Linked DNA regions of Homo sapiens. The protein of the gene in region 2 interacts with the protein of the main gene of each other region in a biochemical or structural test. Each region holds a gene or a part of one and is shown on either strand. Other genes may lie near its edges.

Region 1 (3,500 bases), on a different chromosome or scaffold from region 2:
AGACGCCTGTACCATGTAAGCACCTCATAATACTATGTCAACTATCCTAAAGGTGAATAATAATACAAAGTTATTATAAGGTGATATAAGTAAAATATTTAGCTTAATAAATATGGGGAATATAGATATTTCTTAAAATCTTACCTCTCCCATTTCCTGTCTCAGTTGTTCAAATTCTTGTTTCTCCATTTCTAGCTTATGCTTCCGTTCCTCCTCTGTTCGTCGTTTTTCTTCTTCCATTTTTTGTTTTAATAATTCTTCAAAATTAATTTCCAGTTTTCCCGGTGTAAGAAATTCTTGAGAGATTGTCTTATACATCTCTGGGGAGTCATCATCTACTACCTATTTAAAATAATTATTTTATCACTCTGGCCAGAATTACACATACTAAAAAGGGACTATTTCTTGAAGAAACTGGGATTTCTTTTTTTTGTTTGTTTTTAGTTTTTGTTTTTGTTTTTTGAGATGGAGTTTCACTCTTATTGCCCAGGCTGGAGTGCAATGATGTGATCTCAGCTCACTACAACCTCTGCCTCCCAGATTCAAGCGATTCTCCTGCCTCAGCCTCCCAAGTAGCTGGGATTACAGGCATGCGCCACCACGCCCGGCTAATTTTGTATTTTTAGTAGAGACGGGGTTTCTCCATGTTGGTCAGGCTGGTCTCGAACTCCCGACAGGTGATCCGTCTGCCTTGGCCTCCCAAAGTGCTGGGATTACAGGCGTGAGCCACGCACCCGGCCAGATTTCTTAAATAGGTTTCACATTGAACAAAAAACAAGGGGACTTAACAGTAAACAAGGAAGTCTCAACACAGTGTTCAAAAATAAATAAATAAAAGGGAAGAATTATTAGAAAATGTAAGACCGAGGTATTTTGTGGTTATGAAGGAAATGGTAACCATCTATTCTCCATTACAGTGAAGACAAAGAAATAATTTATTCATACCATGAGTACTTTAAATTAGACATTAAGATTTCCTAATTTGAGAACATTTTTTAATTGGATTGAAACGACTCCCCAGGTTGGTAATTAAAGCATTTAAGTTAATCATGATTTTGTCTGAATGAATTAGATAACCCATCATGATCTCTTCATAATCAGGCAAAAATCATTCTTAGTGCTATGAGTTTATTGTTTATTTGCTGTCTGGCTAATTTTAAAGAAATAATAATAGTTAATACTTGGAGCTGCCAAGTGCAGTTATAAGCACGTAAAGTGTATTAATACATGTAAAATGTATTAATTTATTTAATCCTATGACCCTATGAAGTAGTTACTAATATCCTCATTTTACAGAGAAAGAAACTGAGGCACTGAAAAGTAATTGTCTAAAGTCAACACAAATACTATGTGGCAAAGCTGGGATTCAAACTTCAAAATATTTCTAATAAGATTATAGGCCGGGCACAGTGGCTCATGCCTGTAATCCCAGCACTTTGGGAGGCCAAGGCAGGTGGATCATGAGGTCAGGAGTTCGAGACCAGCCTGACTAACATGGTGAAACCCCGTCTCTACTAAAAATACAAAAATTAGCCAGGTGTGGTGGTGGGCGCCTGTAATCCCAGCTACTGGGGAGGCTGAGGCAGGAGAATCACGTGAACCCAGGAGGTGGAAGTTGCAGTGAGCCGAGATTGCACCATTGTACTCCAGCCTGGGTGACAGCGAGACTCCATCTCAAAAAAAACAAAAGATTATAGGCCGGGCGCGGTATAACATAACCCTCTGGCCTGAACTGTGACTCTGTGGTTGAAATACACACAGGGGAATGAGAGAGGCAAGGGGTATTATTCATTTGCTCCAAGTTTTATCAAGGTAATCCAGGCTTTACCACAGAACTATTTCAACTCAGAAACAATGTTTAAGTGGTTTACAATTCAAAGATTGCCTGAAATTTTTAAATTTTACATATGCATGAACTAAGCTATGGTATGAAATTACAATACTTATTCCTGGATAAATTACAATACTTATTTGTGGATAAGAAAACAATATAAATGTAAGAGGAAGGTTTTCTCTCTTCTCTTTAGAAATGTCTTTAGGAAACTTGGTTTTGTTTTAATGCAGTTTTCTCGCCTGCATTTTTTCCGCTAGTGAATCATGGTAAAAAGGCAGTATTGGCCTACAAATCTGCCCCAAGGACTAGGTCTAGTAATCTTCACAGTTACTTCTCTTCTACCGCTTCTTTTTTTTTTTTTTTTTTTTTTTTTTTTTGAGACGGAGTCTCACTCTGTCCCCCAGGCTGGAGTGCAGTGGCGAGATCTTGGCTCACTGCAAGCTCCGCCTCCCAGGTTCATGCGATTCTCCTGCCTCAGCCTCTGAGTAGCTGGGACTACAGGTGCCCGCCAACACGCCCGGCTAATTTTTTTTTTTTTTTTTTTTTTTTTTTTTTTTTGTATTTTTAGTAGAGACGGGGTTTCAACATGTTAGCCAGGATGGTCTCGATCTCCTGACCTCGTGATCCGCCCGCCTCGGCCTCCCAAAGTGCTGGGATTACAGGCGTGAGCCACCGCGCCCGGCTTCTTCTACCGCTTCTAAACCTGCTTATTCTCCAAAAATTAAGTGCATTCACAACGTCTGTAGGACTTCTATGTAGAAACCATTTATGAATCAGGGATTACCTACTGCACGTAAGATTTCAATATCACTTGTTCCATCAACATTTATTGGAGGTCTGCTACGCTAAGCATTGTGCCACATGTTTGATGAACAGTCTTGGCCTCATGGAGTGGAAAAGACAGCCATAAGTGGTAACAATACAGGATTAGCGCTATGATAGAAGAGTACTAAATGCTGTAAGAATTCATGGAAGGTGTTTATTATCAGGAAAGGCTTTCCAGAGGAAATGGAAAGTTATGAATTGGAGTTAGCAGAGCATAGGGAAAGGAGTGAGGGACATCTTTCAGACAGTGTGAAGGCTGAGTCTCACTTTGAAGAAATACAAACAAATTCAGCATATTTGGAACAAAGAGCAGATTCAGGAAGAATCAAGAAATGAAACGAGAGCAATATACAAGAGCAAGACTATAAAGAAATTTGTTTTAGAAGTTTTTGGATTTTTGCTTAAGAAAAGTGGGGAAATATTAAGCAAAACAGTAACAAAACACAATCAAAATTTCTTTCTTTTTAAAGATCACTCCTGGCCTTACAGGAAAGAATAGGTTACAGGTAAGAAAGCAAGTTAATGAGGAGTTGGCCCCAGGCAAGTTGTAACAGTAACTTGGATTATAGTAGTGGCGGTGAAAATGGGGGGAAAACTGACAGATTTCATAGTGATTTAGGAGGTAGAATAAACGAGACTTAGTGACTGGTTGGACATCAGGCATGAATAAGAAGATGGAAGTGTTTCAGGCTTCCACGTTTCTGATTTGAGTATCTGTGTGGGCAATAAAGCCAAATAAACACTTGGACATATGTGTGTGATGCTCACCCATACAGAGGAAGAAAACCAGGTTACGATATCACCAAAGCTAATTACAGTGTTTCAAGAAGGAGATGCAGTG
Region 2 (3,500 bases):
GTTCATGGTGTCCTGCCTCTTGCCTTCTTCACCTGACAGTTGTCATGCTCCCCATTCCTCACTGGCCCAGCCCCTCTTCCCTACTCTTTCTAGCCCCTGCCTCATCTCCCTGGCTGCCATTGGGAGCCTGCCCCACTGGAAGCCAGGGTGGAGTCATTCAGGGTGTTTGCAGCTTGTCTCACATACAGTCAGTGCTTCAGTGAACATCCTTGTGCATGTTCCATCCCACATGTGACTATTTCTGTGTGATTGCCCAAGGAACACTTTAGGCCAAAATGCATACTCATGTAAGGAGGAGATAATGCTGTCGCTCCCCTGAGAGAGTGTGAGGGTGTCAAGGTATCATTTTCTCAGCCCTTGCAACGTGGTGTTGGTGTACATCTCTTTTGTTTTCAAATGGTGGCACCTGATTGGCATTTCAGTGCAGCCATGGAATATTTCATCACCTGTTATCAATGTGGCTGATGCCCTGTACATAGTAGAACCCTTGAATGGATTAGAATGGAAGCCATTTCTGTCCTTCATGCACCCTTCAGGGAAGCTCTCAAAGACAGCCTTGGGGCTGTGTCAAAGTGGCCCTTTGGTTTCACCAATGCCAGGTTTTCTTAGGATGTGTAGGGCATCGGCCAATGCTGGGTTTTCATAGTACGTGTGGAGCATTGGCCAATGCCGGGTTTTCCTAGGACGTGTAGGGCATCGGCCAATGCCAGGTTTTCATGGGATGTGTAGGGCATTGGGCAATGCTAGGTTTTCATGGGATGTGTAGGGCATTGGGCAATGCCAGGTTTTCATGGGATGTGTAGGGCATTGGGAGACAGGATGTGTGGCTTTCCACGCCAGCTATGTTGCATACTTGGCTGTGTGACCTTGGACAAGTCAGTGCCTCTCTCTGGGCCTCCACTTGCTTCTGGCTGTGTTGAAGGGGATGAGCTTCATGACCCCTCAGCTCTGAGTCTCAGCTGGTAGGGGCCATGATTATCTTGCTCAGCATTGTAGCTTCAGGGCCTGACCACAGTAAGCACTCAGTAAATGCTTTTTGAGTGAAAGAGGATAAAAGAGTCAGTTGGTTGGCTGGTTGGTTGGTTGGTTGGTTGGTTGGTTGGTTGGTTGGTTGGTTACATAATCCTTAGTTAGCCAATGAGGTAGAGATGACTGTTGGCCCCAGTAACAGAAGAAGCAGCCAGGGTTTGGAGGGAGGCTTAACTGACTTGTCCAGGGTCACACAGCTACTTAGTAGCATAGATTTGAAAGCACTTTTCTGTGGCTTAGAGCCCTGCTTCTGATGAACCACTGTGTTCTAGTCTATGACCCCCTTACCTGTGCTGTGGGCAGTCAAGCCTCCATTGTATTTTCAAGAGTCCTGGTTCAGAGCCCCTATGCTAACTCCTGAGCCCAGTGTGCATGGCCCAGGTGCTGGGCACAGACCGGTCGTCAGCCCCTGAGCTGTGCAGAGCCTGCTGGCCGCACTGCCCTTCTTCCAGCTGCTGATTCAGTTTCCAGTGGATCTGGGGTGCCCTCATGACCGCTCTGTGGTTCACTCCAGATGAGAAGGAACGTTTCTGTTCCTCAGGAGTGAGATTTCTGCCTGTATCCTGCAGCAGGGGTTCCTCCGTAGCTGTCAGCTACAAATATATTCCCCCCTGGCACCTCAGCATGGTTTTTGTGCTGTTCATGGATGAGTCTCGTGGGCAAGTGTGTACAGACCCATGAGTGTGCCCATGTGGCTCGAGACATCTAAGAAGGTCCAGCCAGATGTTCTCAGTTAATGATGCCTGCTTAGTGGTGAAAAGCAGTGGTGGGTTTGGTTTTCTGTTTTTAATCTGCATACGTGAAGCCTCTATTCCATGTGGTCCCTAGAGAACACTGGATCTAATGAACGGAACATCTATATTGTGGTGGGTGTGGTGTGCACCTTGCTGGTGGCCCTACTGATGGCGGCCCTCTACCTCGTCCGAATCAGACAGAAGAAAGGTGGGTGCATTCCCCTCTTCCTCCCTAAGGGTTTGTCCCTGGACTGTCCTCGGAGGGAGACGCCATTAGGTGCTTTGGGTTAAGGACATCAGCTTCTGCCAGTAGCAAGAAGTCCAGAGGTAGTGGTGCTAGGGCTGGGGCAGTGGCCTCACCATGTTAGAGTCTGGGTGGGTCACTCTGTGGCTTCCCCCTCATGGTTACAAGATGTTCATCACTGCCCCAGGCCCCGTGTCCTCAAGGGGCCACTACTGAGCAAGGGAGCTGCCAGCCTGGGAAGAGAGGAGGCAGGGACTCTTCTTACCTGTCTCAGGGAGGACATCGTCTTTCCCAGGAGCCTCCCGGCAGACTTCTGCTTTCCTGGTACAAGTCTAGGTTACATGACCAGTCCCTGGACAGGAGGCCAGAGGGAATGGAGATAATAGCGCCACCATTTGATTGGGAGGACTTAACAAGTGATTGCATGGGAAATGTTAGGGAAGTAACCTGGCACACAAGTGCTCAATGTATGTCAGCCCTGATTATTACCCGTATTGTATGTGAGCCCAGAAATATGAGCCACCTCCCTAGAAAGCCCCCTCACAGGGCAAGGTGCATAGCCTTTGACTGCACAGCAGGAGGGCACAGGGTCAAACCCAGGACACCGCTTCCCCTTGTTTGTGTGCACGTGTTACGTGTGTGTCTGTGTGTGTGTGCTGGTTGTTGGGAGGGTTGGTTGTTGCTGTGGCAGGGCCTCTGACTTTGAAGTCAGACAAACCAGGGTTCCAGACCCTGGTTATATACTGTAAACAATCAATTTGGCCTCTACAAGCCTCAGTTTCCCCATCTGTAAAATGGGTTTAGCAACGCCTGTCTTGGAGAAGTTACAAGATCCAAATAAGCCCATGTGAAATAACGGGTCTGACACATTCTAGGATCGCCATAAATACATGTTCTCTTTCCCACTCTTGGAGAAGACAATTTTAAGCTGGTATTTCTGCAACCTTTTTTTATTACAAGAGATAGAAATACATTTCACATCTCAACCCAACACATACACACACCCTTTGTATATAAAATTAAAACTGATATTTTCTTTTTTGTCATATTCTTTTTTCTGTTTAAAATGCTGGTTGTGACCCACCGCCTCCAAAGGGACAAGTGCTGTCCCGAGCTGCCTTTCTGTGGCCTGGCACAGCTGAGCTTGGTTGGGCACATTGTACACTAATCACGCATCCCTTCAGTAGCTCCTTCACCTCTGCCTCCCAAGTTTCCCTCCCTCCTGGGCTGGCTCTGAGATACTGGCCAAGCCTGATGCTTCTGTCTGGGAGGGTTGGAGTCAGGCCCTGCTTCTCCAGAATCTGCAAGACGTCCCACCAAGACGTCTACCCAATGGGTTCCCTAAAGTTCCTGGAGAGCCCCACACAGGGAGGACTCCTCCTTGGATGGGGAAGCAGGTCCCTTCCCCACCAAGGGTGACAGCCCATCCCATGGGATGAAGCATTCATAGCAGCCGATAGTGAAATCCTGGCCATCCTTTCTGAGTCTCAGGC
Region 3 (3,500 bases), on a different chromosome or scaffold from region 2:
GCATCATCTTTCAAATCAATACTGCAGATTGGAACTTTACAAAATTTTATATTTGTTACTATTTGATATAAGACTATTTGGGGGCCTGGCACAGTGGCTCATGCCTGTAATCCCAACACTTTGGGAGGCCAAGGCAGGAACATCACTTGAGTTCAGGAGTTCAAAACCAGCCTGGGCAATAAACCAAGACCTCATCTCTACTAAAAATCAAAAAAATTAGCTGGGTGTGGTGGCATGCGTCTGTAGTCCCAGATACTCAGGAGGCTGAGGTGGGAGGGTCACTTAAGCCCAGGAGATCAAGGCTGCACTGAGCTATGATCAGACCACTGCACTCCAGCCTGGGCGACAGGGTGGGATTCTGTCTCAATAAAATAAAATAATAATAAAAAAAGAATATTTTGGGTTTCATAATTACAGAGATACAAGTTTATATTTAGGATTATGTCTGCAGATATATATAATATTGATAAAAATTCAGATCCACATTCTCAATAAACACCTTAAGATACAACTTATATGGGCCAGGCGCAGTGGCTCACACCTGTAATCCCAGCACTTTGGGAGGCCGAGGCGGGTGGATCACAAGGTCAGGAGATTGAGACCATCCTGGCTAACGCGATGAAACCCCGTCTCTACTAAAAATACAAAAAATTATCTGGGCGTGGTGGCGGGTGCCTGTAGTGCCAGCTACTCGAGAGGCTGAGGCAGGAGAATGGCATCAACCCGGGAGGTGGAGCTTGCAGTGAGCTGAGATTGCTTGAGACACCTTCTCAAAAAAAAAAAAAAAAAAAAAAAAAAAGAGATACAACTTATGTTCTAAAATAACTAATCACATGGTAAGTGCTCAAAGCAAACTCAGTCTCTGTACTCCATAGAAGTTAACTCTGATCCTTAATCACTGTTAAAGGATTTTCCCCACCTAACTTGTATAGTGCCTGGCACTCTAATATTAATAAATCATTAATATTAACAAACTAATAATTACTAATAAATTTTAACAAAAAGTTTTATGTAGACAACCACTCTCAAGACCAGATTTCTGAATAACCAATTTGGTGAACACCATCATTAGAATGGTCTGGCTGCACCTGTGTACAAAATTATTGGCAATACAGGAGCAACTGAAGATCTCAAATATTCCTCATGGTCACCCTTGGTACTCTAGAGACACAGAAACACACAGCATACTCCCATTCCTTCCAATCTGCACGCTCTCTTGATGGCAAACTTAATTAGAAAAGGATTTTAAAGATGCATAAACAATAACTTTAAGAGGCAAATGTGAAATCTCGAGGGTGGTACTCTCATACTCCATTTTCTCCCTTCAGCACTTCACTCTGTATTATCTGTGCATATGCCTATTTGCTATGTTAAAACGTAACTCCCTTTGAGAACAGCAAACTCCCTTTTGTATTCCCAATTCACCACATTTTTTTTTTTTTTTTGAGACAGGGTCTAGCTCTGTCACCCAGGCTGAAGTGCAGTGGCACAAACATGGCTCACTGCAGCCTTGACCTCCCAAGGCTCCAGCAATCCTCCCACCTCAGCCTCCTGAGTAGCTGAGACCACACGCACACACCACCACACTCAGCTATTTTTTTTAGGGGGTAGAGATGGGGTCTCCCCACGTTGCACGGGCTGGTCTTAAACTCCTGGCCTCAAGCAATCCTTCTGCTTCAGCCTCCCAAAGTGCTGGGATTACAGACATGAGCCACCGCACCCCGCCCACCTACCTATGTTCTACAAGTGGCAACCAGAAAGGCATGTTAGACATTCCTTTTTTTTTTTTTTTTTTTTGAGACAGTCTCACTCCATTGCCCAGGCTGGAGCGCAGTGGTGCAATCCTGGCTCACTGCAACCTCCACCTCCCGGGTTCAAGCAATTCTTATGCCTCAGCCTCCCAAGTAGCTGGGATTATAGGCATGCACCACCACACCTGGCTAATTTTTTGTATTTTTAGTAGAGACGGGGTTTTGCTATGTTGGCCAGGCTGGTCTCCAACTCCTACGCTCAACTGATCCACCCGCCATGGCCTCCCAAAGTTCTGCAATTACAGGCACGAGCCACCACCATGCCCGGTCGCATGTTAGACATTTCAAATAGGCACTAATAAATAAGGAAAAAGTCCTATTCTGGAGTGGCAATCACGACTCTCATACAACAGGCAAGGCTAACCAGTTTCAACACAGCAGTTTAATAAAAAACACGTCTAACACTATAATAATTACTGTACTTTTGATCATAAAACTTCCAAATGGAATTTTCTGAAGCAATAAATTGAAACGCTAGTTTAAATGCCTCTGAAAAAGTACAATGACATTTCATTTATCTGACAACACAGACAACGATTCCATTGTATGTGAATTTTCCAAATGAATGAAATGTACCACTTCTAAAAATTTATATTTAAGATATAAATGTTTCTTATAATACATTATATAATTTCTTGAAATATTTACAAATGTCTGAGGTTGTATCAAGATAATGGAGAAAAGAAAGGAGGGGGCAGAATACATATGAAATGAGATTTATGAATGAATTTGAACCTGGGTGATGGACACATGTTTGTTCATTAGACTATTCTACTTTTGTATGTGTTTGAAATTTTTCATCTAAGGAAATTCACACCACAGTAATCAAAACTGTGGTGCCGGCTGGATGCAGTGGCTCACATCTATAATCCCAGTACTTTGGGAAGCTGAAGCAGGTGGATCATTTGAAGTCAAGAGTTTGAGACCAGCCTGGCCAACATGGTGAGACCCTGTCTCTACTAGAAACACAAATATTAGCCGGGCCTGGTGGCGCACACCTAAAATCCCAGCTACTCCGGAGGCTGAGGCAGAAGAATCCCTTGAACCCAGGAGACGGAGGTTGCAGTGAGCAGAGATCACACCACTGTACTCCAGCCTGGGTGACAGAGTGAGACTTCGTCTCAAAAAAAAAAAACCCAGAAACAACAACAACAACAACAACAACAACAACAAACTGTGGTGGCAACACTGACACAGACATACAGACCAAAGAAATAAAACTTAAAGTCCGGAAATAAATCCATATATCTAGCATCTAATGATCTGACAAGGGTGCCAGAACCTTTCAATAGGGAAAGAAATCTTCTCTTCAACAAATGGTATTAGGACAACTAGATATCCACATATAAAAGAATGCAGGCCGGGTGCGGTGGCTCACGCCTATAATCCCAGCACTTCAGGAGGCCGAGGCGGGCGGATAACGAGGTCAGGAGATCGAGACCCATCCTGGCTAACATGGTGAAACCCCGTCTCTACTAAAAATACAAAAAAACTAGCCAGGCGTGGTAGCAGGTGCCTGTGGTCCCAGCTACTCGGGAGGCTGAGGCAGGAGAATGGCATGAACCCGGGAGGCGGAGCTTGCAGTGAGCTGAGATTGCGCCACTGCACTCCAGCCTAGGCGACAGAGCGAGACTCCGTCTCAAAAAAAAAAAGAATGCAGATGAACCCCTACATCATACCACATACAAC
Region 4 (3,500 bases), on a different chromosome or scaffold from region 2:
GCACATCAACTTCAATCTTTACAATCACTATGCTAAGGGTCAATTATTACCCTCAGTTTGCAGATCAGGAAAATATCACAGATGTTAAGTAACAGAGCTAGCCAACAGGTACAGAATCCAGGTTTGACCCTCTCTCTGGCCACAAAGCCCACACCCTTTTACCTACGCTATAGCAGGGGGCTGGGGAAGAATATCTGGGCTCTGACCTTTCTGTTCACTGTAGCCTGGGGGATGAAAACACAGGCTGAGGCGGCCGTCCACTGCCAGCCGCAAGAGACTGTTGGCTGCTCTGTACACATCATTCCGAGCCGCCTTGGCTGTCTTGTAACCACGTTTCTCTGCCCAGGCTGGAGGAAGAAAAGAATAATGGAAAGGGAAAGCATTAACCAGGTACCAGTTATACTCCCACTCCCATAACACAGTCCTTCCAGTTTTCCCCAAAACATTCCAGGCCAGAGATCTTACTGGCTATGCAACAAAAATCTAGGGGTGAGTGGACAGCAGCTTCATCAATGGCAGAATCTCTGAGGAGAGGAAAGGAGACAGGGAAGGGTAAAAGGCGAGGCAGGTAAGGAAGAGCAGCTGAAACCAGGTGGGGCGAAGCCAGGCACATGGAACTCACCTTCACAGATGTCCCAGGCACACCAGGGGTGTTCCGCTGAGGGGTCCTCAGCCTCTGGGTGGCGCAGGTGGAGCAGGGCCTGCACGGGAATTCGGGAGGCCAGGTAGCCCACAGCAGTGTAGGGCTCCTGGATCTGGGCGATAGGGTAGATCCCTGCCAGAACCTGAGGGAAATGAGCACTCAGTACTTTCCTCAATGTCCCACCTTCTCTCTTTCCCTTACCCACCCTCCCCGTCATACCTGCAACTGCCTAGGCAGAAGAGATGGGAAGATGAGGCCTGGGCAGTCACAGAGCTTCACAGAGGGGGTAAGAAAGTAGGTCTGAAAGTATCGGGTATGGCCCGGGGTTCTGGAGACACTCACGACTTTCCGCCCCACCAGCCCATTGATCAGCGAGGACTTTCCCACATTAGGGAAACCTGAGGAAGGCAAGGAAAATTAACGTTTAACAGGTTTCTACTCTGTGATGGGACTTGGTGCTATACCTATAGGTAAAAGGGGAACTAAGGCTCAGAAATTAAGGAAATGGTATTGCAGAATACAAATCACGCTCTGGGCTGCCAGGGTTAAATCCTGGCCCTTCCACTTACCAGCTTTGTGATGTCAGGGCAACTAACTTTCTGAGCCTCTGTTTCTTCATTTTACAGTGTGGACACCTCCCTACCTCAGGGTGGTCAGGATTAAATGAGATAACCAATACAACTTGTGTGGGTCAGTGCCTGCAGTACAGTAAGTACCCAGTACCAGTGATCCACATCTCATAATTACTATGACTTGGCCTGGCACAGTGGCTCACGCTTGTAATCCCAGCGTGATTACTTTGGGAGGCCAAGGCGGGTGGATCACCTGAGGTCAGGACTTCAAGACCAGCCTGGCCAACATGGTGAAACCCCATCTCTACTAAAAATACAAAAATTAGCTGGGCGTGGTGGTGGGCGCCTGTAATTGCAGCTACTTGGGAGGCTGAGGCAGGAGAACCACTTGAACCCAGGAGGCGGAGGTTGCAGTGAGCTGAGATTGCACCATTGCACTCCAGCCTGGGCAATAAGAGGGAAACTCCATCTCAAAAAATAATAATAATAATTACGATGACTTGTCCAAGGAGAAAACTGGAAGCCTTGGGGCTCACTGCCACTCTGCTCACTCACCACCACCAGTTTTTGTGTTTCTGGCTGACTTCAGTGCCTTCATCTCCCTTCCACAGAGCATCTCCTTTACCCCACCTCAGCTGCCCACTCCCATGGTAATACCTGCATCTTGTCACTTCACAGCTCCAAAGCCTCAATTCCAAGCACCCCTCTCTGCCCTGACAACTCATCTTTCCAGCTCACTTACTCTGGTTACTCCATGCCAGTAAGTCTTTGACCCCTGACCTTAACACAGTAACACTATGCAATACCCAACTCGTGTCCTCAATTTCCTTCTTACTTGACTCAGATTTCATGATCCAGCTCCTCAGCCAGGCCCGTTCACAGACCTGGAACTCCCTGGTCCCACTTCTCCCCTCTATCTTACTCACCTGGCAAAATCCCAACCCTGTAAAATCCAGCTCTGCCCATTCAGCACTGCTCCTGGGCAGCTGACTGTGGCTAAGAAAAGATGTACCACTGTGCTCACTCTTTACAACACATGCAAGTATCTAGGAGGAAGGGAGGGAAGGAGGGAGAAAAAAGTTCTCCTTTGACGACCACCACCAGACCTAGTTCTCTGTCCGCTTTGCAGGAAAACTCCTTAAAAGACTTACCTACTTTTTTCACCATTTCTTCCTGCTATCTTCTTTGTAACTGTAAACTACAACATACAAAAAAATGCACAGAACATACATGTGCAGCCTGATGAACCCCATACCACCCAATGTGTGACAACATGTTCCATCTGTCCTTGTTTTTTTTGTTTTTGTTTTTGAGACAGAGTCTCACTCCCTCACCCGGGCTGGAGTGCAGTGGTGCGATGTTGGCTCACTACAACCTCATCCTCCCAGGTTCAAGCGATTCTCGTGCCTCAACCTCCTGAGTAGCTGAGACCACAGGCGTGCGGCTCCACACCTGGCTAACTTTTTGTATTTTTAGTAGAGATAGGGTTTTGCCATGTTGGCCAGGCTGGTCTCAAACTCCTGACCTCAAGTAATGCGCCTGCCTCAGCCTCCCAAAGTGCTAGGATTACAGGGATGAGCCACCATACCGGCCGCCACTCATCCTTCTTGATCATAATCCTCTCCCTCTATACATGCAAGCTTTATCCTTTTAAGGAAATCAACTCCTTACATTTCTCTTTAGTTTATGACCTGTGTATCTCTCAACAATGCAGCTTAATTTTGCAGCTTTCAAACTTGATAGAACTGAAATTGTGCAGTATGGATGCTATTGGGTCAGACTCTTTTCACACAATGTTATGTGAAGTTGTTGCACCTTCTCTCATGGGCCTACTCCAGTTTGGCTTTCTCCACCCCACTGAAACCACGGATCTTCACATTGCCAAGCCTGCTGAGCAGCTCTCTGTTCTCTCATTTGGCCTGTCAGCAACAGTTGACACAGCTGATTCCTCCTTTCCTCTTCAAACACCTTCTTCATTTGACTTCTGGGACGCTCCCTTGGTTTTCCTCCTTCTCACTGTCCTTTGCCCAACTAAATGCTGGCTTGTCCTAAGGCTCAGTCCTTGACCTCCTCTTCTCCAACTATTTCCTTTCTCTCCTACATCTCATCCAATTCCATGGCTTTTTTTTTTTTTTTTTTGACGAAGTCTTGCTCTGTCACCCAGGCTGGAGTGCAGTGGTATGATCTTGGCTCACCGTAACCTCTGCCTCCAGGATTCAAGCAATTCTCCTGCCTCACCCTCCTGAGTATCTGGGACTACAGGCACGCACCACCACACACGGCTA

Evidence for each region. Proteins that work in one complex are often made in the same cells at the same time.
Region 1: the proteins of SIRPA (region 2) and NEXN form a complex in vitro, tested with the Homo sapiens proteins (one large-scale study listed by BioGRID).
Region 3: the proteins of SIRPA (region 2) and EIF5B form a complex in vitro, tested with the Homo sapiens proteins (one large-scale study listed by BioGRID).
Region 4: the proteins of SIRPA (region 2) and GNL1 form a complex in vitro, tested with the Homo sapiens proteins (one large-scale study listed by BioGRID).

The regions. Positions count from the first base shown.
Region 1 is NC_000001.11:77,930,124-77,933,623, reverse strand, and holds part of NEXN (nexilin), read right to left. Parts: intron 343-3,500; coding exon 145-342; intron 1-144. UniProt on the Homo sapiens protein: Involved in regulating cell migration through association with the actin cytoskeleton. Has an essential role in the maintenance of Z line and sarcomere integrity.
Region 2 is NC_000020.11:1,922,907-1,926,406, forward strand, and holds part of SIRPA (tyrosine-protein phosphatase non-receptor type substrate 1 isoform 1 precursor), read left to right. Parts: intron 1-1,857; coding exon 1,858-1,971; intron 1,972-3,500. UniProt on the Homo sapiens protein: Immunoglobulin-like cell surface receptor for CD47. Acts as docking protein and induces translocation of PTPN6, PTPN11 and other binding partners from the cytosol to the plasma membrane.
Region 3 is NC_000002.12:99,343,889-99,347,388, reverse strand, and holds part of EIF5B (eukaryotic translation initiation factor 5B), read right to left. Parts: intron 1-3,500. UniProt on the Homo sapiens protein: Plays a role in translation initiation.
Region 4 is NC_000006.12:30,546,490-30,549,989, forward strand, and holds part of GNL1 (guanine nucleotide-binding protein-like 1), read right to left. Parts: intron 1,042-3,500; coding exon 863-1,041; intron 786-862; coding exon 623-785; intron 348-622; coding exon 207-347; intron 1-206. UniProt on the Homo sapiens protein: Possible regulatory or functional link with the histocompatibility cluster.